Linked DNA regions of Homo sapiens: regions 1, 2, 4 and 5 are each linked to region 3. Evidence: fine-mapped expression QTL. A gene starts in region 3. Each other region holds a variant in brackets. All regions are shown on one strand. Distances are from middle to middle. Region 1 overlaps LINC01778 (long intergenic non-protein coding RNA 1778). Region 2 overlaps PUM1 (pumilio RNA binding family member 1). Region 3 holds the start of SDC3 (syndecan 3). Region 4 holds the start of LOC400748 (a long non-coding RNA gene). Region 5 has its middle 7.4 kb from the start of PUM1.

Evidence for each region.
Region 1: its variant is fine-mapped to the expression of SDC3 in tibial artery (GTEx, PIP above 0.99). The same link has a PIP of 0.9 or more in aorta.
Region 2: its variant is fine-mapped to the expression of SDC3 in whole blood (INTERVAL, PIP above 0.99).
Region 4: its variant is fine-mapped to the expression of SDC3 in pancreas (GTEx, PIP 0.95).
Region 5: its variant is fine-mapped to the expression of SDC3 in monocytes (TOPMed, PIP above 0.99).

The regions. Positions count from the first base shown.
Region 1 is chr1:30,825,274-30,831,369 of GRCh38, forward strand. LINC01778 (long intergenic non-protein coding RNA 1778) reads left to right here. Exons shown (of 3, transcript NR_146732.1): 2 at 858-921. Among named protein-coding and RNA genes, the nearest start is that of LINC01778, 3.7 kb to the left of the region's middle. The variant CTG/C (reference allele first, on the strand shown) is at 3,010.
Region 2 is chr1:30,985,615-30,991,710 of GRCh38, forward strand. All of the region lies in intron 7 of PUM1 (pumilio RNA binding family member 1), which reads right to left. Among named protein-coding and RNA genes, the nearest start is that of SNORD103C, 20 kb to the left of the region's middle. RefSeq lists an enhancer at 17-517. The variant G/A (reference allele first, on the strand shown) is at 2,977.
Region 3 is chr1:30,905,857-30,911,952 of GRCh38, forward strand. SDC3 (syndecan 3) reads right to left here and starts at 2,902. Exons shown (of 5, transcript NM_014654.4): 1 at 2,593-2,902. The coding sequence starts at 2,730. RefSeq lists a silencer at 2,857-2,946.
Region 4 is chr1:30,852,846-30,858,941 of GRCh38, forward strand. It overlaps LOC400748 (a long non-coding RNA gene), which reads left to right and starts at 5,335. Exons shown (of 2, transcript NR_188385.1): 1 at 5,335-5,521; 2 at 5,872-6,096. RefSeq lists a silencer at 3,457-3,751. The variant G/A (reference allele first, on the strand shown) is at 3,533.
Region 5 is chr1:31,070,119-31,076,214 of GRCh38, forward strand. No RefSeq gene overlaps it. Among named protein-coding and RNA genes, the nearest start is that of PUM1, 7.4 kb to the left of the region's middle. The variant C/A (reference allele first, on the strand shown) is at 3,483.

The sequences.
Region 1 (6,096 bases), 81 kb before region 3:
AAAGCAAGGAACACTCGAGGCACTATGGCAGGAAATTAGATGGTGGGGTTCGGGGTGTTGGAGAGGAGGAGGAGTTTAAAGTAAAGCTGAAAGGGGAAGCAGGAACAAGATCCCAAAGGGCTTGAATGTCGTGCTAAGGGATCTTGGACCACATTCTCAGGCAGTTGGGGGATGGAAGGGGAGAGGGCTATGATTAGGTTTGCATTTTAGGAAGATCTCCACTCTTGCAGCTGTGTGGAGGATGGGCTGGAGGGGACTAGGAGACCAGTCATTGCAGGGACTGGGGAAAGTCAGGGCAGGGGGGACTAAGGCTACCCGAGCTGGAGTAGAGATGGAGAGACCCAAACTCAGGAGGAGGTGTAAAGGACGTGGAGCCATAGTTCAGGTGACTGAGGAGATGGCACCAACTCACCTGGGAGGCTCTGAGGGCTTCTCTGGCAGCCAGATAGGATCACCGCTCTCCTTCCATATGATATTTGTGTCAGCTTGTGTATGCAACTTTCGTTTCAAGAATCATGCTGCATTGAAAAGATGTCTATCTCTTTTCACATCTCCCCACCCTCTACACACACACACACACACACACACACACACACACACACAGAGGCTGTGATTCACCTCCGTTCCCAGCACTCAACACAGAGCTTCATCCCAAGTACGCTTCCACAAATCCAAACCCCCATCAGCCCCCTCCCCATTACCCTTACCCCAGCCTCCACCCACCCCTCCCAGCCTCTGCACTTCCTTTCCAACCTCCATGCACCTGCTTCCCATCTCTTTAGTCATGTCGTAGCCACCACCTAGGAGCTGGGACTGCCCCCCTGCTCACCATGTCTGCCCTTCCTATCACCCCTCAGCAGGGAGGAAAAGTTGCCTATCTGTTGGGTCAGATTTCTGAAGACTGATGAGGCCCATTTTCTGGTAAGCGGGGTCATTACAGTGCAATCATTGGGTTGTTATGAGAATTAAATAAGGTTTGTTGCCTGGCACATGTAACTATCCAATCAATCAGCTATAGTAATGGCATTATTATGGGTGTTAGAGGAGGATGGAGAGGGCTGGTGAGGACTCCAGTGTGGCATAGCCCTGCTTTGGGATACCGGTGTTTGCTTCACTCATTACAGAGTGGTGTCTTGACTTCTCATTTGTCACACGTACTTGTTATTCACTCTCTCGAGGAAAAACATGAAACAAAGTAGATGGTGGGACAAGAGTCCTGGGTTTTTATTTTTATTATTATTATTATTATTTTTGAGACAGAGTCTCACTCTTGTCACCCAGGCTGGAGTGAAATGACATGATCTCAGCTCACTGAAACTTCTGCCTCCCAGGTTCAAGCAATTCTCCTGCCTCAGCCTCGCGAGTAGCTGGGATTACAGGTAGGTGCCACCAAGCCCGGCTAATTTTTGTATTTTTAGTAGAGATGGGGTTTTGCCATGTTGGCCAGGCTGGTCTCAAACTCCTGACCTCAAGTGAACCACCTGCCTCGGCCTCCCAGAGTGCTGGGATTACAGGCATCAGCCACCATGCCCAGCTGAGTCCTGGATTTTTGTCATAATACCACATGAATACCGTCAAACTCTCACGGAAATCCCTGATGCAGTGGTTACAGATGTCCTCTCCCAATGAATCAAGACAGGACAATTGAGTGGCTTCTTAAATGTCAAAAGAATCAACTCAGATCTTCCAATTAAGGAACCTTCAGGATGTCAGAGCTGGCAATGCCCTTAGAATCCTCTTATTCAACCTTTGGTTTGACATATGAGGAAACTGAGGGCCAGAGAAGGCAAGTGACTGCTCAGAGTCACACAGTTGGGTTGACCAGCAGAACCAGAGTCTTTTTAGGCACCCAGTTTCCCCCTCACTGCACTTTCCCAAATCCGGTCTGTCTTGCAACTGAACAGTGACTAGAACCTCCTCTAGCCAGGGCACATGTAGGCCCTTCACATACTGTTACATTAAACATTCACGACAGCCCTGCAGGATGGCTATTGTTAATCCTATCTGAAAGGTCCAGAGAGAGAAAGTATCTCCTCCAAGACCACACAGTGTTACTGAATTGAACCCAGGCCTGTCAGGTTCCAAGGCCCATGTTCTTGGCATAGCAATGTGTTGACTCTAGGACTGCTCAGGTGGTTTATTTAGAACTTGTGGGCATCAGAGTGATTTGCCAATATAATCACTAAAAGAAGAGGTGAATCTGCTACTTGATGAAAACAAAAGAGGGCCTAGAATCTTCTGCACATCAGTGCTTCATGTACCTGCCCTGTTGTGTGGAAGCGCTCCTCTAAAAGCAGTAGGAGTCAAAGGGTTATGCCCCATCTGAGGGTATAGAAGAGAACCAGCTAGGCTTGGGCATATTTTCTGAGTGAGGCACCACCACCCAAGTTCTCTGAGTAGAGGGTCCTCGGAAGGAGACACAGGAGAGTGTGTTTTTATTTTTATTTTTATTTTGAGATGGATTCTCATTCTGCTGCCCAGGCTGGAGTGCAATGGCATGATCTTGGCTCACTGCAACCTCCACTCCCAGGTTCAAGCGATTCTCCTGCCTCAGCCTCCCAAGTAGATGGGATTACCAGTGTCTGCCACAATGCCCAGCTAATTTTTTGTATTTTTAGTAGAGACACGGTTTCACCATGTTGGCCAGGCTGGTCTTGAACTCCTGACCTCAAGTGATCTACCCACCTCCGCCTCCTAAAGTGTTGGGATTACAGGCTAGAGTATGTTTTAATGAGGTCTCTGCATGAGTATGGATCTTGAAGTGATCATAGGTTCAGGATCTCTTGCAGAAAGGGCCAAGTGGGTGATATCTATAAGGACAAATCAACTGCATTAACTTCATTGTCACTGGAGGCTCCCACAGCACAGTGCCCTACAGCCTTTTCCAGCCTTTGATGGAGGAAGGGCAGTGTCCCTCAGCACTGGAAGAGATGCCATCCTTTATAGCAAAAAAATGGATTGTTCTACATCTTCAAGAGGTTCTATTTCTAGCTCTAGAAAACACTATGA[CTG/C]TTGATCAGCAAAAAATTTTGCTGTATCTGGCTCTGGAAATATCTCTGTCCTTGGCTCTGGAAAATGTTCCAGAGACATTTATAGTCCCACAACATTGTTGGCTCTAGGGAAAACTCCATGGCTCCAGAGGACTTTCTGCTCCTAGTTTTGGAATTCTGCAACCTGTTTCTGGAAGACCCTTCCTCACCGGTTTTGCACTGTCCTGCCCTCCTGGCTCCAGATTATCCAATCCCATTTCTGGAGGACACTCTGACTGTGAAGCCAAAGAACTCTCTATACATGGCTCTGGAGGGCTGATTCTCTGTAAAGATGGAGAACCACTTGACTGGCCTGGAAGACTGACTGTCCATACTCTTCTTCCAAGATCTGGACTTGACATCCCTGGCCCAAAAAGATTGACTATATAGGGACCTGAAGGGCCTCTCTAGCTGACATGCTGTAATATCATATTTCACAAGTGCTGTCTTGACCCAGTTTTGAGATCCTGGCTAAAACCTCTCAATTCCTCCTTGTGGGCACTTTGCTCAGCCTACACCTTAACCCCTCCAAACTCTAGGCATGGAGCTGTCTGTGCCCCTGGATCTAGACAACTCTTTGGAATAACCTTCATTCCTGGCTTCTGGAGTAGGAGGGGGAAATTTGGATAGATTGGAGGGATGGGAAGGTAAGAGGAAGCACGGAATGGTTGCTGTGGCATCTGTTCTGATCAGCAACCTGAGCTGGATTTAAGTTCCATGGTCACAGGTTAGCGGCCACAATTGTTCAAATTTCATTTACATGAGCAGCCTGATGAGGTTCTGGGTTCAACAGGAAGAACTAATTTTGGTTCTGCAGTGCATGAGGCCTAGAGTGGGGGAAATGGAAGCTGTTCTCCCCATAGCTGTTGACCCCAGCAAGGTTCATGGAGTCTGAAGGTGAGGCATACTGGCCAAGATGTGCAGCATGATGGGCCCCGGCCAAGCCACTTTATGGCCAAAAACATGGACAAGCGGAGCCAGGGCAGAAAAGAGGGCACATGACAAAATTCCCATGAGGTCTGCAGTCAGGGCCATTCAAAGGCCTTTCTTACCGTGCCAAACACCCATACCCCATTCCTGGCCTTCTACATTCCTCCTGGAATCACCAGCCCTAGAAGTTTAAAAATTGCATCTCCCGGCCAGGCACAGTGGCTCACACCTGTAATCCCAGCATTTTGGGAGGCCGAGGCAGGCAGATCACGAGGTCAGGAGTTCGAGACCAGCCTGACCAAAATGGTGAAACCCCACCTCTACTAAAAATACAAAACTTAGCCGGCCATGGTGGTGCATCCCTATAATCCCAGCTACTCGGGAGGCTGAGGCAGGAGAATCGCTTGAACCCGGGAGGCAGAGGTTGCAGTGAGCCGAGATCGCACTACTGCACTCCAGCCCGGGTGACAGAGTGAGAGTCTGTCTCAAAAATAAAAAAAAATTACATTTCCCAGATATCCTTCGAGTTGGATTTCGACTGGGTTCTGCCAGTGGGATGTATCCATGCGAGATTCTGGAACTAACATCAGAGAGAGTCCAAGCTTCTAACTTTTATCAGCGGCAGTGACAATAGTCAAGCAGCATTGATGGTGAGTACAGGCTTGTGAGCCCAAAATGACATCACATTTCTTTTTCACTCCACTGGTCCTTCCAACGTTTCTATAACCAATTCCCTAAATTAAATCACTTTGTCTGATGTACCTAGAGTGGTTTCTGTTTACCTGACACTTATCGAAGATTTATGAGTGCCTACTGTGTTCTAAGATGTTCTAAGAACTAGGACTGTGAGACTGAACAAGAGTGGAATAGTGGATGGGGTCAGAGAGATTGGCAGAAGCAAAGCCATACAGGACCTTTTAAGCCATAGGAAGAAGTTTGGGTTTCAGTCTGATTTCAATGCTAAGAGCCTCTTATTCAGGGAAGGGAAGGATGTGATTTATGACTTGGGCTCTATGACAGATGAAGTCTAGCAGGCTGTAATAGAAAGGAGGGAGAGAGGGGGCTATTTGAAGACTTCAAGCTGGAGATGACAGACTGAAGCTGGTGGGGAGGGGTTTACTGTTATAACATTAGGGTCTGATGATGGTAGGACGGACACACTGACCTCTGATGAGATGAAAAGCAGAACTCTATTACTTACAGCATCAAGTGGGAGAAAGTTGCCATGCGGGGCCGTGTCCCTACATGCAACCCCCTGGTTGCACCCAGGACAGGGGAACAGCAAGCTGGAATGTAGGAGGCAGCTTCTCTATGGCAAGTGGAGTGGGGTTAGCAGGTGTAGGGGCTTCCTGTGGGTTGGGAATTTTGAGTGATTTCACAGACCCAAGGAAGAAGTATTCATCCCTTGATGTTTAGCAAATAATTCCTGGAAGTTGTGTGTATTGTTGTGACCCAAGAGTGTTAGAGCCCAGTAAGGAAAGGGGTTGGGGTGCAGGCTGAGCAAAGTGCCCGCAAAGAGGAATTGAGAGTTTTTCGCCAAGATCTCAAAATTGGGTCAAGAGAGCCCTTGTGAAATATGGTATAACAGCGTGCTAGCTAGAGAGCTGTGGGCGTGATCAGGATCTGCTTTAGAGGTAGAGCTGACGGGACTTCCAATGGACTGGACGTGAGAGAAAGAGGAATCTTGACCATGGACTTCCAGAATCAGAGGGCTCTGATTTTGAAACCATGCTTCTCATCAGATACAAATAAAGATGTTTGATAACTTTTTTTTTTTTTTTTTGAGACGGACTCTCACTCTGTTACCAGGCTGGAGTGCAGTGGCGGCATCTCGGCTCACTGCAACCTCCACCTGCCAGGTTCAAGCAATTCTCCTGCCTCAGCCTCCCGAGTAGCTGGGACTACAGGCACAAGCCACACACCCAGCTAATTTTTGTATTTTTAGCACAGACGGGGTTTCACTATGTTGGCCAGGATGGTCTCGATCTCTTGACCTCGTGATCCGCCCCCCTCGGCCTCCCAAAGTACTAAGATTACAGGTGCGAGCCACTGCGCCGGGCCGTTTGATAATCTTTTAAAAACTTATTCAAATAAATGAAGGGCTAACAAGATAGTAAGAAATAACCAGGGCTAGCTG
Region 2 (6,096 bases), 80 kb after region 3:
ACTCCAGCCTAAGCAACAAGAGTGAAACTCCATCTCAAAAAAAAAAAAAAAAAAAGAGTCAAAATCTCACCGCACCAGGACCACCAGCTGCTATCAGTGGGTCACAAAGATAACAGGGAAGAAAGAAAACCATTTTTGTTTTTACGGATGAGTACTTTCTGCATTATACTACTTTAAGAAAAAGCTATGTAGTTGAATTTGAAGGTGAGACAACTCCACCTATTAAAAGGCCCTGCGTTTCTAATACAAAGTTCAAAAGAGACAGCCTGAAGCTAGAAACCAAAATAATAGCTATCTGCATAGCTTGTACTAGATGACCTTCAAACAAGTCCCTAAACTTCACTGATTTTTTTTTTTGGAGACAGAGTGAGACTCTGTCCCCGGGGCTGGAGTGCAGTGGTGCGATCTTGGCTCACTGCAACCTCCGCCTCCTGGGTTCAAGCGATTCTCCTGTCTCAGCCTCTGGAGTAGCTGGGATTACAGGCTTGCGCCACCACACCTGGCTAATTTTTGTATTTTTACTAGAGACGGGGTTTCACCATGTTGGCCAGGCTGATCTCAAACTCCTGACCTTGGGTGTCCTGCCAGCCTCAGCCTCCCAAAGCGCTGGGATTACAGGCATGAGCCACCATGCTTGGCCTCTTATGTGTAAAAATAAAATAGCTGCCCTACCTCGTGGGGTTGTTTTCAGGGTTCACAGAGAAAATCCCTTCGAAACAGTAAAAGCACTATATCAATGATGGGATTCTAAAATTTTAAGAAAAAGGTTTATTTTGGAGTCATTCCTCAGCATATGAAATTTGTGAAATCTTGTTACTGCTTGAAGCTTCTAGATAAAAGCCCAGTTTATACCAGGTTATTTGAACTACTGCAATGATCAACTAATGATTACAATGATTTTTCGTAGGCGCATACAAATTAAACCATGCTGCTAAACTAAAAAAAAAAAATCATCATCATCATCATCTGTGCATTTCTTTGGCAGATGAAGAATCTGATTCCAAAACAAATGATTTCTAAGGTCCTAGGGAAGAACAAAACACATCCCTTCACTAAGTATTATTAATACTTTTTGAGAAAAACTTCACCATAAGTAAAATTTGAACGAAGTCAAATAACAATAGAAGTTAAGCTTCAACTGATCAATTACTAGTCACTCTTTGTCAGTTACTATACACATGACACTTGATAGAATAATCATTTGTAAGTTAAAGAGAAAGTTGAGCATATTAAATACCTACATTAAAAGTATATACACACTTGGCCTCACGAGAATGACATTTAATCACACTGCCACACTTTTAACACATGCCGATTTCCACTCCCCTCTGACTGTGGTCGTGCAGGAATGAATACCATACTTCAACTTTCATTTTCAGAATATTGAATCTTTGTTAAAATTCATGCTTAACAGATGAGTTTTAGTACAACAGTGTCCAATTTTGTGAAACATACTACATTAGGCTATTTTTAGATTAACTGAATTCTAAATAAAGATCAACAATACAATTAATTCTACACTGATATAATCCTGGCTTTGGTTTGTGCCATGTTTGTAACATAATACAACCTAGTAACAAATTTTTTTTTTTTTTTTTTTAAGACGGCGTCTCACTCTGTCGCCCAGGCTGGAGTGCAGTGGCGTGATCTCAGCTCACTGCAACCTCCGCCTCCTGGGTTCAGGTGATTCTCCTGCCTCAGCCTCCCGAGTAGCTGGGACTACAGGCGTGTGCTACCACGCCCGGCTAATTTTTGTATTTTTAGTAGAAAGGGGATTTCACCATATTGGCCAGGCTGCTCTCGAACTCCTGACCTCATGATCTGCCCGCCTCGGCCTCCCAAAGTGCTGAGATTACAGGCGTGAGCCACCGCGCCTAGCCAAAACCTAGTAATAATTTTCTAAACTGCATTTAAGGAAACAGGCAACTGTATAGCATTTTGTAAAAAATAAATACTGCTCCAACATCACAGTACAAAATGGTATGAACACATTATGCATGAACTGCTCACAGCTGTTTTCCAGGATTAAGAAGACAATGAAGTGAATTTGAGACAAAGGAAGAACATTTTAGAAATAACAACGAGCATTTCAAGCTGACAAAATACTCCAAGTCAGAGGTTCTGAACCCAAGATATTTGTACTTGGGTGGGTAATACTGCATCTTTATCTCATGCACATTTACCTGAAATTTAGCATGTTCTTCAATTATGATTGTAGACAACAAACTACATTAACTTTAGCAATATACCTGTGACATTATCACAAACAGAAATCACATATACTTTCATGTTACTTTACAGTTGTTACAAGTATCTCAACATCTTACTTGTGCTCATTATGACAGCTAGTACATCTACTTCTATTTCATGCATCATATCATAAATAAGTAAATATATAATTAACTTTGTTTTTAAATATGACAGCTATTTTTATACCACTGGTTTCCTTTGTAATCCTACTTTATACATTTTAAACATTATTCTGAGAAGTAGTCCACATGGTTCACTTATTAAGAAGTTCACGGCACACACAAAAACAAACAAAAAAGAATTAGAAACTCCTGCTCTTATAAATAAACCTTACAAGGGTTAAATTCAGAGTGATTAACAGTGACCAGACAACCAACTGACTCATCAAAATCCCATGTCACAGCTAACAAGAACTAAGTTTGCAATGAATTAAATGAAAATTACCTTTTCCCTATTTGCAGGCTGCTCCATGTCATGTATCTCATTATAGGCTGATAATAAGTTTGATGAAACCAGCTTATTACACCAAATCAAAGCCAAGATTGAAAGAAAATATAACAAAAGAGAGAATTACTTATTTTGTCAACCTCCAAACCAGATTCCTATTCTAAAAAATCACAAATAAAGCAAACCTACCATTTGCAGCAAACTCTAAACCAAGAAAAATGATCACCTTTGTTGCTTATTTCAGAAAGCCAAGATAAAAAGAGCAGAATGTGCAGAAAA[G/A]TATGTGCTGCACTAGACCTCTGGTCCAACCCTCACAATCATCAGTACTGTCTGAGACTTCCAGCTGGTTCTCAAGGCCTCCGGGACTCAATTTTCAAAGGCATCTGTACCTCCTTGTCCTCTTGTACACTCGTCTTCTACTCTCTTCAGCCTAGGACTACACCACAGTCATTCCCAGCTCCATACCTCTGCTCTGACCTGCAACAAAATGTATTCCACCTGTCCTTCAAGTCAGTTGCATGCAACCTTTGTCCTCATTGAGCCCTCCCCTTGTCTGATAAGATTCAGAACCCATTAATTTAGCACTTAGTTCCCCAAATATTCCACTACTGTTTCATTCAGAACCCAAGGTTCCTAGAAGGACACAACAGTCAACAGTTAACTGAATAATAAGAGTAAGAGAATGCCTCAAACTGCTGCTAAACTCACACTAACCACAAAAAAAACAAACTATAATAATTAAGTAATTCCTGCTTTAAAGTGTCTTCTCATTTCCTATAGGCAACACAGCATAAGACTCACAACACCATCTCTTCAACCTCTCTAGTTATTTTTCTTCAACCTAACCACCAACCAGACTGACTACTTCTACATTATCTACTGAACACATATCTGTTTTACTATTTCCTCCACTAGAATTCTCATTTTCTTCGTATATAAAAAAGTCTTTCAAGGCACAGCTAAAGAACTACCTCTTCTGGCTGGGCGCAGTGGCTCATGCCTGTAATCTCAGCACTTTGGGAGGCCAAGGCGGGCAGATCACCTGAGGTCAGGAGTTCGAAACCAGCCTGGCCAGTAAGGCGAAACCCCATCTCTACCAAAACTACAAAAATTAGCCAGGCACAGTGGTGGGTGTCTGTAGTCCCAGCTACTCGGGAGGCTGAGGCAGGAGAATCGCTTGAACCCAGGAGGCGGAAGTTGCAGTGAGCCAAGATCGTACCACTGAACTCCAGCCTGGGCAAAAGAGTGAGACTCCGTCTCAAAAAAAAAAAAAAAAAAAAAAAAAAAAGAACCACTTCTTCCACAAAGTCCTTCCCTTCCCAAGAGACCAGAGTACACTCTCCATAGTTGCAGGGTTCCAAGAATATGGGCATAAATGGTCTCATCACTTGTCATCGAGTACTTCCATGCACAATTTAAATGATAAAGTGAGTTACAATGACTAACCTGAGAGCAAATCAAGAAGAAGAAAGGGAATCTTACTCTATTCATGAAAGATATGGTTGGCTACAAAGAACAAAAGATATGAACAGAAGGCTGTATCTGTAGAACACAAATCTGTGGTCTCCCTGAAGTTATCTACAAAACTGAGTGTCAGAGAATTATGTACATTTTTCTCATGAGAGAGACCATGGCTTCTGATCAGATGACAACAGAGTGAGCCTTAAAATATTAAGTTCTGATCCAAGAAGTAACTTTCCTGGATATTATACAGCATAGTTATTTGTATATAAGTGGTAAGCTGGATCCAAAGGACACACATATTAGAAAACACGGTAGTTCTCAAAGAGTAGCCTCCAGACCTCCTGAAAGGCTAGTTTCAAATTTTAATTTTGGGAAGCATATTACGTACAGAGGATGCACTGAGATATTATAATAGGGATGGGGGAAAGTCCCCTGAAACCTTGTTCTGCTAAAGCAATGCAGAGGAAATGGGGTAAGGTTCAGTCTTTGCCCTCAAGGAGCTTACAATCTGGCAAGGACTATTAGACGAGTAATCACAACACAAGACAAAACATGGTAACACCTTCTCTTAAAGGAAACACAAAATGCTATGGAGTTCTAGGGAGGCAGACATGACAGCTTTTTGGTTTGGAGACTAAGAAAGGAAGGTGACAGTACTGAACCTTGACAAATGAGGTGGACGTAAATTAGAAATGAAAAGTGGAATAAAATGTAATGAAAACTAAAAGGATAAGGGATAAAATGTAAGAAACAAACACCAATTTCCAATAGAAAAGGAATCGTTCCTTCTTGACAACTACTAGCTCTTATACAGGAACACCGAGAGATTGAGGGTCTTAAAGATATAGGAGGCTTACGCCAGTGGTTCCCAGGTATGCTATTAGGGCCCCCGGTACAAGAATGTATAAAACAAACTACTCAGAAAAGAATTATGGCCCATGAGATAAAACAACACTCACATCATGACAGTGGTATGTCTGTGTAAAAATGCCTCTATGTTGCAGCAACCAAGACATGCACAGGAAACCTGAATCCAACAAGAGATTAACTTTCAAAATAATGTTTACTTTCAATAACTGCTGAGATATATGGTGAGGGCACCCTTGGTTTTATATTTTTGAATAAGTGGTAGCTATGATGTAATCATGCTAACTACTTGTGGGTACATAGAAGTACATTTCTGTTCAAGTTCTAATAATTGTCCAGTCTCCAAAAACTGGTAAAATTATTTTGAAACCAAAGATCAATAAATCAAAAAAGAATATCAACTCTGATTATGAAGTAAAGAACAGTTTAAAAAAAAAAGAGAGAACCATATATTTTTGTTCATAAGAAATCTGAGACAAACCCTTCTTAAAAAACACAGAAAGTGTTAGATTGCATTACACTGGGAATGGAAGCTAAGAACCAAAAATGGCCATAAAGAGAAAAAAAGCACAGAGAGTCAATTCATATGGGGAGGCAGGCATACCTACTAAGAACTGCACGGAGAAGAGTGTACACTTTCAGTTTACTCTCTCTGAAAGATATTTTGTTAATTTAACCTTATATGAATATGCACATTCACACAATCCCTTAAAGGTATTTATTGTTCATAAACGACACAGGAGACTTAAAGGGAAACTTCATATGTTTAACTTTTTACTCTATCAATCAAAATTCATTTAGTATCAGCTATTTATGACAATAACTAAAGGTACAACACGGCATAATAATCTCCAAAGACCATAAGCTAATTTCCCTACATAGAATTTCTAAACTTCAAAATGAGATGCTAACCTTTCAAACCTAGAAGTCTGCATTAACGATCTATTACAAAACTACTAAAGAGTAACAGAAATTCATGGTCAATCAAACTGCTTCCGCCACAAGGGAGAACTTAACAAGATTGGGAAACTAACAGCCCCTCTTTTGTAGTTCAGACAGCTGACCTTT
Region 3 (6,096 bases):
GACACAGACACACAAACACACACACACACACACACTGCAATTCACCATCTGCAGTGTGAATGAGGCCTGCTCTCCCTGCTATCCCCATGCTGAAAGACACGAAGACACACACACACACACACACACACACACAAAGGCTGGCAGGTGACCCAAGGGTCATCATGTCCCTGCCCTTCCCTGCCCTGTGCCAGCCACCGCTCATCTACCAAGGCCACCCCTGGAGCTTCCCTGGCTGGGGCTCTTCTGATCTAACCTCAGTCCCTCCTGCTGCAGGCACTGCCCTCTCCCTCTGGTGCGGAACCCCGGCAACCAGGTACCACCCATTAACCCTTTTCCTCCCAAGTCAGATGAGGACAAGAGGGATGATGCCCCTCCTTGACAGCTTGACCCATGGGAAGATGTGAGGCCTGGAGGACACTCCACTTCCCACCACCTCACCAGGCGCCCCAGTACCTGCCCTCCCCCAGGCCCCACCCACCATTTCAGCCTCTGGGCTCAGACTCCCAGGGTCTGCTTGATCTGCCACCCAACACTGGGTCTGAGCCACACCTCTCAGATTCAGGTCACCCGTGTTGCGAGGCCCTACTGTGCATGAGGCTATTAAATGCTCTCACTAAGTCCTTCCACCACCTCGTGGAGTATGAATTATTAGCCTTATTCAGCAAGGAAAGTGGCCTGCCCAGCGCTCCACCTGGCCTCCAAGTCTAAAGCTTTCTGTCCTGAGCCCCTTTCATTCATGTGCACACCACATGACTCCTGAGCTCCTTCTCAGGACACTCGTCAGTCATCCCATTGAATTTTTGCCCTCTGAGGAAGGGGTCATTAGCCCCATTTCACAGAGGGACAACCAAGGGTCAGAGAAGTAAGAGGACCTGCCCAAACCATGCCACGAATCGGCGGGGGTAGCAGGATTGGAACCCAGGGTTGTGTGATTCCCAAGCCTTTGATTTTAAGGATGGTCTTTCAGAAATTTGGCTGAGAAGGCGACCCCAGCTGCTAGGGTGTGCTGGGTCTCTATCCCTCCCAGGGACCTCTTCCTCTCACCCCACTTAGGGGAGAGCTGGGAATGAGACATCCTGGCCAGCAGGCACTTCACACAGGTCAGCCCTCAACACTTCCCCTCCCTCCAGCTGACAGCCCCCTAGATGGGGAAGGCTGAGGAGGGGCCTGTCCATCCAAGAAGCAAGCTTGGAGCCCCTGCCTGTCCTCCTCCTGTCTTACTGACTGGCCCACTGAGGCTGGGAAAGGGAAGGAACTTGCAGAGGGCGGCTGGGCACCCAGTGTTGCTTGAGAGGCCTGGGTCCTTTTCAGCCTGGGGGATGCAGGACAGCATAGCTCCTGGAACCAACCTGGGAGGCTGGACCTAGAAATCCCCAGCCCGCCTGAGCCAGAACCTGGACACTTGTCCAACAAGAACTCATCTGGGGCCTGGATCCCTCAAAGGGGGATGAGGTCCTTCCTTTCTCTGCCATCCCTGACGGAGCTGGGACCAAGCATGGCTGCTACGGTCACTCAAAGGGACACTCAAGGGTCACCTCATACATACCATCACCTCCACCTGCACATGCTTGGTTCCCCTCAGGGGTCCTCGTCCTATGTCCAGGGTCCCCCATGCACCTGCATGCACACGCTGCTATGTGCACTCACACACATTCATGGGTCCAAGCACACGCCCACCAGAGGTCTTTCACACACACACCCTCACCCACTGCAGCCACACACGGCCATAGCCAACAGTGGCCCAGCCAGGCACAGGCACACATCATGCACAATGGGTCACCCTCCCACGACCACGGACGGGAGGGCACGCTGGCATCCACCCATGTGGCAGACACATCCTTCACCTGCACACGCCCCACAGGTCCCCGCACCCCTCACTGAGTTGGCCACACACGCCCACACACGCCCACACACAGGGTTACCCTCACTCCCCCCTCAGGTCACCTTCACCAAGTCACCCTCCACCTCCACCTCCCCTTCCCGGGCCCACTGCCCTGGCCGGCTGCCGCGACCCTGGGAAGAACCAAATGCACACCCTCCCCTCGGAAGGGGAACCGATCCGATTCCCAAAAAGTGGCCATGGTCTGGGCACACCCACGAGGCAAAAGCCAGGCTCACTCCCACCCCAAGACACACCCAGCCGGGACGGCGACCCCCAGCCCGCCGCCGGGTCCTTCTCGCGCCTCCCAGGCCAGCGCAGGGGTCCCGCTTCGTCCCCGGGGAGACAGTTCCCGGAGCCACTGGGAGGTGGGGGAACAGGGCTGAGGACCCGCGATCGGGTTCCCTCCCGGGATTCCCTCTGGGGAGGGGTCCCAAAAGGAAGGAGAGATGCGCCCCCCGAAGATGACCAGCGGCGGGGGCGGCCTCTCCCCGCGGATGCCAGCTAGGGGGAGATTCCGGAGGGGGGGGAGCAGGGTGCAGAAAGGGGCGCTCGGGGGAGGGTCGAGGGGTGGCAGGGACCGCGGCCCCGGGGGAAGCAGCCGGGGGGGAGGGAGCGGGGTCCCGGAGGGGGGGTCGCGGGCGGGGACCGGCACCCCGCGCGGGGGGCGGCCCCGGGGAGCCGTGGCGGGGATCCGGGCGCGTGTCACTCACCCCCGCGGCGCGCCCCGCCAGCAGCAGCAGCAGCAGCGGTGGCAGGAGCAGCCCGCGGGCCCCGGGCCCGGCCGCGGCCCCGGCCCCGGCGCCGGCCCCGTGGGCGGCCCCGGCACGGTGCGGCGGCCCCGGCTTCATGGCGGCGGCGCGGGCGCGGGCGGCGGGCGGCGGGCGGGCGCCTTTGTTCCCGAGGCGCGGCGCGCGGGGCGGCTGCTTGGCGGCGGCGCGGCCCGGCGGCTGGACCGACGCGCTCTAGGCTCGCGGGCTCCCGGCTCGGCCGCCCGGCTCCGCCTCGCAGCTCCGCGCCCACAGCGGCCGCGCCCGCAGGAAGCGTGCGCCGCCGCCGCCGCCGCCGGGCCGCCCCCAGCGCGGGCGGAACGGAGGAGGGGCCCGGGGCGGGGCGGGCCCCAGTGCGCCCCCCGCGGGGCTCCGCGCCCTCTGACCCCAGTCCCAGCCCCCGCCCCCACCCAGAGGGAGCCCCGCGCTGCCGAGTGGGCACCCGGACACCTGAGTGAGCAGCCGGCCTCGCCGATCCCGGGGCTGGAGGTCGCGGAGCCCGCCGGACGCACCTCCGCGGCCGCCGTGCTAGGTAGAAGGGAAGGGTCCCGCGTGGGATACCAGGGCCCGGGCCTGGCTCCCTGAAGTCGCCGAGCGGAGGGGTCGCATGGGCGTTTTCATCTACAGCCTCCCCCTGTGGCTCCACGCACGTGTCTCTTCCTGGACTCCCATCGTCACCCTCACACACTCAGCCAGTCCACCCAGTGGGCCAGAGGTCATCCAAGACCACGGGCTTTCATGCCTCCAGGACACCCAGGGGCTGTGTGACCTCAGATCAGGGCCCGGCCCTCTCTGGGCCTCGGTCTCCCCAGGGGACCATGGGGGTGGTCACTTCTGGGCCCTGTCACTGTGGATCTGCAGAGGAAAAGCCACGCAGACCTGAGCGCAGCTGCTTCCACACCAGCTGTGCGCCTCCAGCAAGGCCCCCAGTTCTCTGAGACTCAGACCCCCCATGGTTGAATGGGACCACCCCCTCCAGTGCAGGATGGCGAGAAAAGTACATCTCTGAGTGGCAGTCTCTAGCGCTGGTGGTCTTTCTACCCTGTGTGGTCACGGTGCCTTTTCCCCCTTCACCTTCATCCCCAGCGGCATACCCCATGCTGTTCTTACTTCTCCAAGTCTCCAATGGCGTGTTAGCTCCAGCGGGGGCAGGGTTTTGTGTCTGTCTTGTTCACTGCTATGTCCCCAGCACCAGCACAGAGCTCGGCATGACATCGATGCTCAATCCAAATTTGCTGAATCAATGAATGTGTTTCCCATTTACTGGGGCTCAAAACCAAGTGTTTTGGGGCAAGATAGGGGAGAGTGAAACATTTCTGGAACCCTGACCACATGCCAGGTGCCCAGCGCTTTCATGTGTTATATCATTTCTCAGGAACCCCATAAGGTCGGTCTGTCAATATCTTCACTTCTTAGGTGGGGAAGCTGAGAGCCAGCAAGAAGAGGTTATTTGCTGATGACAGCTGGCTGGACGTCTCTACCCTCAGTTACTCTCCTCTCTGGCCCCTGTGTCCCAGCACCCAGCTTAGAGCCTGCCATTAGAAAATAGGAATGAAATCAGGCCGGTCGTGGTGGCTCACGCCTGTAATCCCACCACGTTGGGAGGCCGAGGCGGGTGGATCACGAGGTCAGGAGATCCTGGCCAACATGGTGAAACCCCGTCTCTACTAACAATACAAAAAAATTAGCCGGGCGTGGTGGCGGGCGCCTGTAGTCCCAGCTACCAGGAGGGTGAGGCAGGAGAATGGCATGAACCCGGGAGGCGGAGCTTGCAGTGAGCCGAGATCGCGCCACTGCACTCCAGCCTGGGCGACAGAGCGAGACTCCTTCTCAAAAACAAAAAAAAAAAAAAAAAGAAAAGAAAAGAAAATAGGGGAACGAAATTGAGTTGAAACTGGAACAATTCCCTCAAGGAAAGGGGAACCAAAACCAGGATGAATGGAGGGGCAGGCCTTGAGGAAGAGACTCTGGGGGACCAGCCATGGGTTTTTGGTGTTGGGGGTAACTGTACTTGTCCTGCAGGGCCCTTGGGAGGAGGACCAGGGGACAAAGGTCAACTCAACATAAAGTAGAGATAAATTAGAAGGGGCTCCCCAGGAGGGAGGGAGAGCCCAGTCCCTAAAGGGTATGAAAGGCAAGCTCACCACCCTTTGACAGGGATCCTGGACAGGGAAGACAGGGAGACTTTCGAACTAGGAATTCTGAGGTCCCAGCCTCTGAAAATTCAATTCTCAAATCTTTTGGCATGACATCAATGCTCGATCCAAATTTGACTGGCACCTTGGGGAGATGGGCAGGGAGGCTGATGGGGTGCAATAGGTGGGAAACTGGTTTCTGTTGAGGTAGCACAGCTTGGAATTGAAGAGCTCTGGCTCTGGGTCGGCCAAGTATCTGGGTTCAAATCCCAGTTCTGCCAGTTATGAGCTGTATTGTGTTGGATGTGTGACTTAACCTCTCTGAGCCTCAATTTCCCAACTGTAATATAGAGATAATGACCACGCAGAGTTCATTCATTCATTCATTTAGCAAGCATAAATTGGGTGCCTGCTGTGTGCCAGGCCAGGTACCAGGTTGTGAGGATTACATGAGCTCTTCCCTGCCATCGTAATGGAGTTCAATGAAGGTGGCTGGGAATGAAGCTTACAAAGGAAGGGACTCAGATGTAGGGATAACATCATCCTTCAGAGATGCTGAGCAGATCCCAGGAACATACCAACCCTGAGGCGCTCCCAAAGGGCCAGCAGGGTTAGGGTGGGGATTATGAGGAGCCAGATGTCAGCTGGCCACAGACAGCAGTGGCAATTCTAAGAGGCAGTAAGTATCCTGTCTTGAGAGGTATTCAAGGCTCGGAGAACTATCTAGCAGGGAGACCATTAGGATGGTTTCCATGAGTAAGATGGGCAGTGAGCATGGCCCATCTTCAGAGGTTCCTGCCAGCTCTGAGACTTCTGGAAGCAGCAACTCCACTTCCCTGACATCCTGGGGAAGAGGTGGGGGCGGGGCAGTGGAGAATCTTTGGTCTGGACAGGCCAGGAGCGCCACCTGCTGCTCTTCAAAGACACTGGTCACAGCCAGAACTAAGACAGGTCTGGGCCCCTGAAGGTCCTTCTCATCTTGCTCCCCCCGGGTCCCAGGTCTCCCTGGGGTTCACAGATGCACACATTTCCTGCCCTCAAGCACATGGGTCATCTGCACAGTCACCCTTGCCCAGGCCTCCTTGTGCATTGGAGCCACATCCCCACATACTCAGGGTCTCCCTTCATAGCACCATAACCTCACCCACAGGCACCAGCTGCTGCCGCCTCCTGGCACAATAGTCACAGCCCCCTCCGGCCTTTAGAATACACACTGCCTCCTCTGGGAAGTCTTCCTGATGTCCTCTGGGTGATCAGGCCTGGTCCTGTCCTGCCGGCATCCTGATCACACTCATCCTGCACTCCCCACCCT
Region 4 (6,096 bases), 53 kb before region 3:
CAGCCTAGGAGGACATAGTTATGCGGGTCCCTCACTGGAGCACAGGGTGAGATGTACCTGGAGAGAGGGCCATAGCAGGAACGTTGGGCCCAGAGGAGGGAGCACCCAGCTCTGTTGGACCGGGGTGAGATCAGGGAGGACTTCCCAGACCCAGTGACAGAGTGTGCTTTAGAAAAGAGCCTAGGCCGGGTGTGGTGGCTCGTGCCTATAATCTCAACACTTTGGGAGGCCATGGCAAGAGGATAACTTGAGCCCAAGAGTTGGAGACCAGCCTGGGCTACACAACAAGACCCTGACTCTACCAAAAAAAAAAGTTCTTTAATTAGCCAGGCATAATGGTGCACGCCTGTGGTCCCAGCTACTCTAAAGGCTGAGGCCAGAGGATCATGTGTGCCCAGGAGTTCAAGAACAGAAGAGAAGGAAACCAACAGAGTAGAGAGGGTAAGAGTCCCAGCTGATCCAGGTGCTCCTGAGCCGATACCATCCCATGCCTGCCAGGGGTGAAGCCGGTGCAGCCCATTTTTCATGTATTCTGGTTGGGTTTCTGGTACCGAAACTAGAAGAGACCTGACTAGCACAGTCCCCTTCTTCATTATTTCTCCCATCTGTCCTTGCCCCATCACCATCGCCTACACAGCCCCCTCCCCACCATAGGCTCTGTTCCACCTACCTCTCCCTCCTCCCCAAATCCATCCTCCAGAGCCCCTGCCTTCCGCCTTCAGTCCTGCATGACCAACCCTCCCCAGAAGGGGCTGTCCTGGGCTCTACTGGCAGCTGAAGGTCAGATTTCACAAGAGGGGCCTCTGGGTTGTATTCAAGGCTGGAAGCTCTGGAAGTAATGGGAAGAGAGAGTGGCTGCAGGCAGCCCACAAGGCTTGGCTTCAGGCCTGGGTAGAGAACCTAGCCTTCTCTCTGTTAGCAGGCACCAATAGAGCTGGCCTGCCCTGGGTCAGGCTTGGGTACCTCTGCCCCATTTGAAAGCATCAACCCCTTCTCTAGTCTCTCGGCCTCCAGTCTCTCTCCCCTCCAACCCATCGTGCATTCTGTGGCCAGAGAGAGCTTCCAAAAACGCAAATCTGACAATGTCACTGCCCTCCCCACAGAACTCTGACAGCTCCCTGTGCCCTAGGAGATAATAGCCTTTAGTCTGGTTATTAGCTAGGATATAGGTTGAGCTTCTAAAGCAGAGACCCAAAATAACTCTGGCTTAAAGAAGAGAGAAGTTTCTTTATCCCTCATATAATAATTTACATATCAACCATTAAAGGCTGGTGCTCCTTGGCATAGGGGACCCAAGTTCCTTCTGTCTTGTTAAGCTGTTGTCATTCCGTGTTGCCCTCATTCACATGTTCAAGATGGGACCACCTGCACCTTCCGCCAATGGTAGGGGAAAAGGGACGGGGCAGGCACACCACTATCAAAGGGAAACAGCCTACACTTCTGCTCGCATCCTATTGGCCACGTTAGTCACATGGCCCCACCTGGCTGCAAAGCACGCTGGGAAACGTAGTCTTTCTTCCAAGCTTCCATGTGTTATGGATATGAAAGGAAAAACAGATATCATTGCAAAGCCAGCAGTCTCTGCCACATCCTGGCATTTGGGGTTCTTCATATCTTTGCACATGCTGTGCACCACTGCCCACCTCCCTCTTTCTACCTCCTGAGTGCCTGTTCATTTGTAAAGACTCAGCTCAGGCCGGGCAAGGTGGCTCACACCTGTAATCCCAGCACTTTGGGAGACTGAGGCGGGTTGATCACTTGAGGTCAGGAGTTCGAGACCAGCCTGGCCAACATGATGAAACCCCATCTCTACTAAAAATACAAAAATTAGCTGGGCGTGGTGTGCGTGCTTGTAATCCCAGCTACTCAGGAGGCTGAGGCACAAGAATCGCTTGAACCTTGGAGGCGGAGGCTGTAGTGAGCCGAGATCACACCACTGCACTTCAGCCTGGGCGACAGAACGAGACTCTGTCTCAAAAAAAAAAAGACTCAGCTCAAATGGCCCCTATTCTGGGAAGCCTTTCTTGACTACCACCTCCCCAGCCTGGAGGAAGAGTCTTCATGTTCATTGATGACATGGTGTCATGTGTAAGGAAGGATTCATCTCCCCCCCTAGATTGGAAACAACGTCAGGACAGAGACTGCAACTGATTCAATTCTGAGTCCCCCTGACCAACACCAAGACTGAAATGGATGGGCATTTGGAAATACAGAATGAATGAATGAAAAAATGAGTGAGTAAATGAACTATTTGAATGAGAAAATATTAACTGAGAAGTGATGATTGATTGAGTGAATGATTGTTGGCCCAAGGAGACACCTGAGCATTGATGGTGCACTGATTAGACAGGCAGGACTTCCCTGGGGGTCTTATCTCCTCATAGGCAGGTACTTCTGCCGGAAATGCTCTTCCCTTTGGTGACTGTCTAGCTCCTGCTCAACCCTTACATCTCATCTTAAATTCACCTTCTGAGAGAGGGCTTCCTTGCCTCACTCCTCCCTCACTCCAACCGCACTCTTCCCTCCTGCACAGTCCACAGACCACCGTCCTTCCACTGAAGCACTCAGAAAAACTGACACTAAGTATATGCCATGTACTAGTTTGTCCATGAGACTAGGAGCTCCATGAGGACAGGGTCAGGTCTGTCTCTCCCACTGTTGTGTCCCCAGCCTGGCACAGTGCTGGACAGAGTAGCTGTCCACTAAAAGTTAAATGAGAACCCAACTTCTTAGAGTGCATCTAAAAGGATTGACATTTGGCCCCAAGAAGGGCCAGGATAATGTTTGTGGCATAAATGTGTAGGTGGCAGCCTCAGCTCTGCCTGGCGGGTGGCACTAGGAGTCTGTGCCCAGAGGTGGCCTGGCTGAGGGACCTGTGGGGACAAGAGACAAGCAGAAAAACTGCCCACAAGCATCTGATCACAGAGCCGTGGGTACGGTTGGCTATATAGAGAATAACCAAGGGTTGGGAGCCACACTTTCACCTTGACTGCTGGAGAGAGAGGGGCTTGCTGGAAAGTGGGAGACATTGTGATGCAGATGGCAAGTTACTTAACTGCTGTGTGCCTCCGTTTCCTCATGCAGAGGGAGTTAACAAGAGCACCTTCCTCATGGCATTGTCGTGAAGACTAAAAGATTAACCCATGTAAAGTGCCAGGGCTTGGTTCACTGTCAATGTTTGCAGATCACATGAAGGGGCAATAAAAATATCTGTGCTCCCAGGTCAGACAGAGCCCTTGCTGAGCCTCAGTTTTCTCACCTGTAAAGTGGGACCACCAATATTTAACCCCAGGGGCTTGGAAAGATGCAGTGAGACAAGGCTGTAAGGGGATTGGCACTGTGCCTGGCACCAGGGAATCCTCAACCCTTCCCCTGAGACAGAGAGAAGAGTGGTGGGTGTAGAGAATGCCTGCCTGCCTCGCCTGCCATAGGCACGAGCCTGGTGAAGTGGGGAGGCCCCCTGGTGACTAATCTCGTTAATAGTAATCATCACCCTGGTTCTCATTAATATAATAACACTGGGCTCCCAGCC[G/A]CCGCCTGGCTCCAGCGCTGGCTCCTCGGTGCCTCTCATCTCTGCCTGGCGGGGGGCTCTGCAAACACTCATTACACTCCAGTCCCTGGGGAGGCCGCCAGGAGAAGCAGCTATTCCAGGCACACAGCTCAACTCTGGGCCGCAGGCTCTGTTTTTAATAAGCACCATCGTACACACTCGAGCACACACACACACTCACATGCACACACAGGTGCTCACACACACAATTGTGCAGCACTTTGCAAGCTCTTCACTGACCATTAATTATAATTGCTCACAATGACTAAGCCTTATGTGATAACAATGATCGTGGATGCCTGCTAAACACTTCCACTTGCCAGGAACAGTTCTAAGTGCTCGCTCCACTTGTATTAACCCATCTCATCTAAATGAGCATTCCTGTTGTTTCCATTTTGCAGCTTCGGAAACTGAAGTACCCGAAGGTTATGAGACTTACCCCAAATCACCGACCCGTGGAGCCACAGAGCTAGGATCCGAATGTTTAACACTGTCTCAAAAGATATTAGTTCCTCAAGTCAATCCTCATGGTGATTCCGTCCTTATTCTCCCCATTGCACCAGTGAAGATGTGGGCCCAGAGAAATGATGTCCTTTACCCAGGAACACACAGTCAGGGAGGCCTGACCAGAGTGGCGGCCTTACCACTCCCCAGTGGTGGAAGTAGGAAGGGAAATACTATTTCCCTTTTAAAATGGGAGAAACTGAGCCCCAGAGAGGTTACACAGGGATTGGTGGAGCCCTGGCCCCCTCTTCTTGCCTCCCACCCTCACCCCCACCTCTCATCCTCCCACCCTTACCCCCACCTTGGAGACCTTAATTAAGACACAGACCAGCTGGCTTGGCCATGGGGGACTCAGTGTCAGAGGCCCTCAGGCCACCTGGGGCTCCCTCCAGGCCACTGATGTTCTGTGCCACCACCTCCTAGCTGCATGTCCCTGGACAAGTCACATCACCTCTCTGGGCCTGGTTTTCCTCAAAATGGGGAAAAAAGCTGACACTTAGGGAGCATTTACAATGTTCCAGGCCTATTCTATGTACATTCCACATAGTATCTCTCTTTTTTTCATCTTTTTGAGACAGAGTCTCACTCTGTCACCAGGCTGGAGTGCAGTGGCGCAATCTCGGCTCACTGCAACCTCCGCCTCCCGGGTTCAAGCGCTTCTCCTGCCTCAGCCTCCCTAGTAGCTCAGAGTACAGGTGGGCGCCACCATGCCCAGCTAATTTTTTGTATTTTTAGTAGAGACAGGGTTTCACCATTTTGGCCACTATGGTCTCGATCTCTTGACCTCAGGATCCAACCACCTTGGCCTCCCAAAGTGCTGAGATTACAGGCGTGAGCCACTGCACCCACCTTCCATGTAGTATTTCATTTTGTTCTCACCACAACCCCAGAAGGAAGATATTAAAAGAGTCTGTGGTTTTTTAAGATTCTGTTATTCTATAGAATAGAATTCTGATTCCCACAGAGTCTGTTATGAAAGATTCCACGATCTTAGAAAGATTCCATTATTCTGGGATTCTCAGGTACTGGAAGTTTCCATCATTTTATAGATCATGGTGTTAAAGAATTTAATGAAATGGTGATTCGTTGCACCTCAAGGGCAAGAGGCAATTTGTCAGCCCTTGGACAGCCTTAAAGGCCACCACTGTCCACCCCCTGCCCCTGTCCCCTCCCTCAGCTATGATATCAGAGCCAGCCAAGGCAGAACAACCTGTCTCTATGGCACGGCCTTGAGTGTAAGGTCAGTGAGGACTGTGGAGACCGCCAGAGCGCTTGGTGGGTGACTCGGCGGACAAAGGGCTCTGTGCACCCGCCTCTGCTGTCCTGGCTGGGCCTCACACACAATGGAAGGACCTTTCGAAGCTGCACCCAGCCTGCCCCCTCCCTCAGCAAGAGACACCCAGAGATGCAGCTGAGCTCAGTCTCAGAGCAGGCCCCCTCCCTGCTCAAAAGGTCCACAGAGAGGAGGTGGGAAGGACAGGTCACAGAAAGGGAAGAGTGTCCCCACTCTTTCTTAGCTACCAATGGTTCCCACCTCTCTACCTTTGCCCATGCTGTTCACCCTGCCTGGCATTCCCCTCTCCCTCTACAAATCCTTCAAGAGCCCCCTCAAGTCCTACTTCCTCCAACAAGGCCTGCCCAGTTATTCTACCCCACCCCCACCCCATTTCCTCTTTCTCCAAAGTCCTGTTGGGTGGTTTTGGGGGCTCACATGGGGCTCAGAGACTCCCGTCTCTCCTTTCCTGTCTGTCCTCCCTGCTACCACCAGAGTGATCTTCCTGGAACACAAATGTGGACTTGTCACGCTCTTTCTACAGATGCAGACTCAGAAGTGTGGTATGCAAAACTTCCCAACTCAGGCCCCATTCTTTGTGTCTGGCTTCAATTTCTGCCTCAAATCCATGCGCTAAAGCTTGGCCAGATGAAGTGGGGATCTGCCCTCCAGACACATGGTCACGTGGGCAGCCCTTCTGAGACTGGAACAGCTGAGACCCTGCCTTGATCGCAAGACACAGGCACTGAGGGTCTCCTTCCCCACCCAA
Region 5 (6,096 bases), 160 kb after region 3:
CTCACTGTAACCTCAAACTCCTGGGCTCAAGCAATCCTACTGCCTCGGCCTCCCAAAATTCAAATTCAACAACTCCATAAGATGTTGTATTCGGAAATCCAGCGCTTGAGCCAGACAAGAAATCATTTACTTAATCTCTCTGAGCCTCCATTTTCTCCCCTATAACATGGGTCTAATAGAATAGCACTGAATGAAATAAAGCTGATAAAGCATTTAGCCCCATCGGGCCAGGACATTGCAAAGTGCTGGTAACTATAATAGGAAAACCTGCAGGGGGAAATTGAGCAAATGAGCACACATGAGAAAGTTACAAAGATTTCAGTTTTCAGAACCTTACCACACGTTCTGTGCTCCATGATTTCATTCTGAGATCCATGACTAACTCCTTAGGTTTTGTTTGTTTGTTTGTTTTGAGCCAGAGCCTCGCTCTGTCGCCCAGGCTAGAGTACAGTGGCGTGACCTCAGCCCCCTGGGTTCAAGCAATTCTCCTGCCTCAGTATTCCTAGTAGCTGGGATTACAGGCCTGCGCTACCACACCCAACTGATTTTTGTATTTTTAGTAGAGACGGGGTTTCACCATGTTGGCCAGGCTGGTCTCGAACTCCTGACCTCAAGTGATCTGCCCGCCTCAGCCTCCCAAAGTACTGGGATCACAGGCGTGAGCCACCGTGTCCAGCCACTCCTTAGTTTTAACTTTAGCTTTTATTATTCAGGTGTAGAGATTCTTTTTTTCTTTTTTTCTTTTTCTTTTTTTTTCTTTTTTTTTTTTTTTGAGATGGAGTTTTGCTCTTGTTGCCCAGGCTGGAGTGCAATGGCATGACCTCGGCTCACTTCAACTTCCGCCTCCCGGGTTGAGGCAATTCTCCTACCTCAGCCTCCGGAGTAGCTGGGATTACAGGCACCCGCCACCATGCCAGGCTAATTTTTTGTATTTTTAGTAGAGATGGAGTTTCACTATGTTGGCCAGGCTGGTCTCGAACTCCTGACCTCAGGTGATCCACCCGCCTCGCCCTCCCAAAGTGCTGGGATTACAGGCGTGAACCACCTCACCAGGCCTGGTGTATAGATTCTAAAGTCAGTTTAGCCACAGCCACGTGGAACCAACCTTCAGCTGCCTCCCCATCCAGTCAAATGATGCAATCCCAACAGAACACTTGACACTCATCCATAGATTTCCCTTAAAGAATTACCTTCCAGGGCCTGAGGCACCAGCTCAGCACCCAAATAATCCTATCAGAGCAGTGCCTCCAACAAACACTAGAGACTGTCCTGTTAGCAAATGTTTACCTGTGCCACACACCGTGTTAAGACTTCTATAATTGCCTGGCGCGGTGGTTCACGCCTGTAATCCCAGCACTTTGGGAGGCTGAGGCAGGCAGATCGCTTGAGCTCAGGAGTCTGAGATCAGCCTGGGCAACATGACAGAACTCTGTACTAAAAAGTACAAAAATTAGCCTGTAATCCCAGCATTTTGGGATGCCAAGGCATGCAGATCACTTGAGGTCAGGAGTTCAAGACCAGCCTGCCGGTGTGGCAAAATCCTGCCTCTACTAAAAATACAAAAAAATTAGCCAGGTGTGGTGCTGCATGCCTGTAATTCCAGCTACTGAGGAGGCTAAGGCAGGAGAATTTCTTGAACCTGGGAGGCAGAGGTTGCAGTGAGCAGAGATCACACCACTGCTCTCTAGCCTGGGTGATAGAGCAAGACTCTGTCAAAAACAAACAAACAAACAAACAAAAAAGACTTTTATAGTCATTATTTCATTTAAAACTCCCAAAATATCTATGACATGGACAAAATTATTATTCCCATTTCCCATGAGAAAACTGGCTGGGCATGGTGGCTTATGGCCTGTAATCCCCAATTGCTTGAGCTCAGGAGTTCAAGACCAGCTTGGGCAGCATAGTGAGATCCCCATCTCTACAAAAACAATTTAAAAATTAAAAAAATTAGCCAGGCATGGTGGTGCATACCCGTGGTCCCAGCTACTCAGGAGGCTGAGGTGGGAGGATGGCGTTGCAGTCTTTCTGCTCCTTAGCTCAGCTAGGTCTGAGTTCTTTACCTAGAAAAAGGAAAAATTAGGAATATGGACACTGGAGAGTGAGTGGAGTAGAATTTATTAAGCAAAAGGAAAGCTCTCAGCAGAGGGGATGTGAGGGGTGGTTCCCCTACCCTACTTGAAAGCGGGCAAGTCCCCCAGGTGGTTGGGTCTGGGGCCCTTTATGGACTTAGAATGGAGAGTGTGTGCTGACTGGTTTGTGAGTATGCAAAAAAGGTTCAAGTAAAGACACCACTCAAAGGTGGGCACAACAGTGTAGAAAAACCAATTAGGAAAGGGTAGGTATATGTAAAACAGGTGAAGGGTGGGGCCCAATCAGAGGAAAGTACACCAAACAGGAAGAAAGTTCTCAATACAGTCGGAGGATTTAACTTGTAGCTTGGGCTTCAGGCTTTAAACGGTCTTCAGCTTGGAGGTGGGGTTTCACCCGGGACTCACCCTTATCTGCCTAGGCATTTGTCTGCCTCCTGCCACTCTCACTGGCTTAGGCCCTGGAGGTCAAGGATGCAGTGAGCCATGATGACACCACTGCTTGCCAGCCTGGGCAACAGAGACTCTGTCTCTAAAAAAATAATAATTTAAACAAAATTAAAAACTAATTTTAAAAAAGATGAGAAAACCAAAACTTGAAGAGGTAAAGGAAACGGATTAGTATTTATCCAAACATTGTCTAAGGCTGTTTGCTGAGTGTTGTCTGATCAAGACAATGTGGAAATCATGTCTAAAACTTGGCAATCTTCTCAATTCATCTGGTTAAGCGGATACATAATAGACAATATCATCAAACTTTGGGGGTTTGTGAAACTTAAAATCTAATCAAGCTGACCCAGGGAGAGGATTAAGGTGGATTTGAGAAGGGTATTTTTATTTATCTAATCAGTAAAACCTAATCCATTCCATTGTAACCTAATCAGAGAATGATAGAAATCTCAAAATAGAAACTTTTAGTGTAGGTCATTCTAGAAAGCCTGGGTTCAGGAATTTTGAATGCTACTTCTTCATAGGGTAGCGGTTCTCAAGGTGTGCTCGGAGGCTTAGTGGTGAATCAGCCAACCTGGCCCTGCTGACCATGAGAACAAAGTCCACAATAGACAACTGTGATACAATTCCACAGATTTTCATTCTCTTACAACCACCTGTACTTGGCTAGTATGTTACTATCATCTGGTATTTGTAAACTGAATGTAAAGCATTCCCAAGTAAAGTTTACATCCCTCAATTTTCAGAAAGGATTTTTCTCTTTGGGGGAGGTGGATATTTTGTTATAAGTGTTTGAGTTGCTTTTTCAACTATGTTACACTTGTGTTCTTCTATTTGTAGAATCTCCCTTGGATGGCACTTCAGTTCATTGTTTTGGTGCTTAGGTAATTGTTACACTGTTAGCATTTCCACTGTCATTTTGTTTCATAGCAAGTCGTGATT[C/A]TTAGAGTGCTTTTCCCATGGGAAAGTAGGAGTGAGGAAGAATTTGGACGTCTGGTATTGGTAACTATGTAATTCTGACCAACGCTGGTAAAATTGGAAAAATATTTTAAAGATCTCTGCTTGATATTATTGGAAAGCCAACAAGGTAGTGAAGAATTACCGAGCCAGGATTTCTGAAAGGAAGGAAACTGAGGGATGTAAACCCCATATTTAGAACTACTTTTCCAGGTGAGGTATTTCCTGACAGATAGCTAAGACGGTGAATGGTGTTTGGTCTTTGTTTTTGTCAAAGACTTGTTTGAGATCTGGAGTGGTGTTTTTATTTTATTTTGTTTTTTTGTTATTTGTTTATTTGTTTATTTATTTTTGAGGCAACATCTCACAGTGTCACCTAGCCTGGAGTGCAGTGGCACCATCATGGCCCACTGAAGCCTCAACCTCCCAGTCTCAAGCAATCTTCCCACCTCAGCCTCCTGAGCAGCTGGGACTACAGGCAGGCACCATCACACCCAGCTAATTTTTCAGTTTTTTGTAGAGACAGAGTCCCACTGTGTTGCCCAGGCTGGTCTCCAACTCCTGGTCTCAGGTGATCTGCCCACCTTGGCCTCCCAAAGTGTTGTGAACCACAATACCCAGCGTATTTTGACTTTTTTTTTTTAATTTATTTTATTTTGACACAGGCTCTCTCTCTGGCACAATCATGGCTCACTGCAGCCTCGATCTCCTGGGCCCAGGTGATCCTCCTGCCTCAGCCTCCCCATTAGCTGGGACTACAGGCATGTACCACCACACCTTCCTAATTTTTTTATTTTTATTCTGTAGAGCAAAAGTCTCACTGTGTTGACCAGGCTGATTTTGAACTCCTGGGTTCAAGATATCTTCCTGCTTTGGCCTCCCAAAGTGCTGGGATTACAGGCATGAGCCACCATGCCCAGCTATTTTATTTATTTATTTATTTATTTAGGGATGGAGTCTTACTCTGTTGCCCAGGCTGGAGTGCAGTGGCGCGATGTTGGCTCACTACAACCTCTGCCTCCCAGGTTCAAGTGATTCTTCCTCAGCCTCCTCCTGAGTAGCTGAGATTACAGGCACCTGCCACCACAGCCAGTTAAATTTTTTTTTTTTTTAATTTAGACGGAGTCTAGCTCTGTCACCCAGGCTGGAGTGCACTGACACAATCTCGGCTCAGCCTCCCGGGTTCACACCATTCTCCTGCCTCAGCCTCCCAAGTAGCTGGGACTACAGGCACCTGCCACCACGCCCAGCTAATTTTTTGTGTTTTTAGTAGAGACTTTCTCCATGTTGGTCAGGCTGGTCTTGAACTCCTGACCTCAGGTGATCCACCCACCTTGGCCTCCCAAAGTGCTGGGATTACAGGCATAAGCCACCTCACCTGGTCTTTTTTTTTTTTTTTTTTTTTTAGATGGATTCTCGCTCTGTCGCCAGGCTGGAGTGCAGTGGCGTGATCTCGGCTCACTGCAACCTCTGCAGGGATCAAGGGATTCTCCTGCCTCAGCCTCCCGAGTAGTTGGGACTACAGGTGCACACCACCATGCCCAGCTAATTTTTGTATTTTTAGTAGAGACAGGGTTTCACCATGTTGGCAGGATGGTCTTGATTTCTTGACCTCGAGATCCACCAGCCTTGGCCTCCCAAAGTCCTGGGATTACAGATGTGAGCCACCAAGCCCAGCCTAATTTTTATATTTTTAGTAGAGACAGGATTTTGTCATGTTGGCCAGGCTGGTCTCAAACTCCTGACCTCAGGTGATTCGCCTGGTTCGGCCTCCCAAAGTGCTGGGATTATAGGCATGAGCCATGGCACCTGGCAGTATTTATAACTTTTAAACCAGAAGAAGAAAACTTTGTTGTGAAAAGAACAAAAACAATGTACAGTAAATAGGAGATATAAAATATAGCAGAAAAAAGTCTTAAGAGTAATTCCAATAAATATAGAAGGGTTAAACTTACCACTAAATACAAGAATGCTATGATGGGGCTGGCTGGGCATGGTGGTGCACTCCTGTAATCCCAACATTTTGGGAGGCCAAGGCAGATGGATCACTTGAGGTCAGGAGTTGGAGACAAGCATGGCCAACATAGTGAAACCCCATCTCCACTAAAAATACAAAAATTAGCCTGGGCATGGTGGTGCGCGCCTGTCATCCCAGCTACTTGGGAGGCTGAGGTGGGAGAATCACTTGAACCCGGGAGGCGGAGCTTGCAGTGAGCTGAGATCGTGCCACTGCACTCCAGCCTGGGAGACAGAGCAAGACGCCATCTCAAAAAAAAAAAAAGCTATGATTGGGTAAGATTATAAGAGGGATAGTTAAAAATAAATACCACCTAAATATGAACCTAAAGAAAGCGAGTATAAAAATGTAAATATGTGATATGATAAACTTAGGTTTAAAAATATCAATAAGGGCTACTCTGTATGATAGTATACAAGTGGACATGGCTGGGCCCAGTGGCTCACGCCTGTAATCCCAACACTTTGGGAGGCAGAGGCAGGCGGATCACCTGAGGTCAGGAGTTCAAGACCAGCATGGCCAACATGGTGAAACCCCGTCTCTATTAAAAAATAATAATAATACAAAAATTAGCCAGGTGTG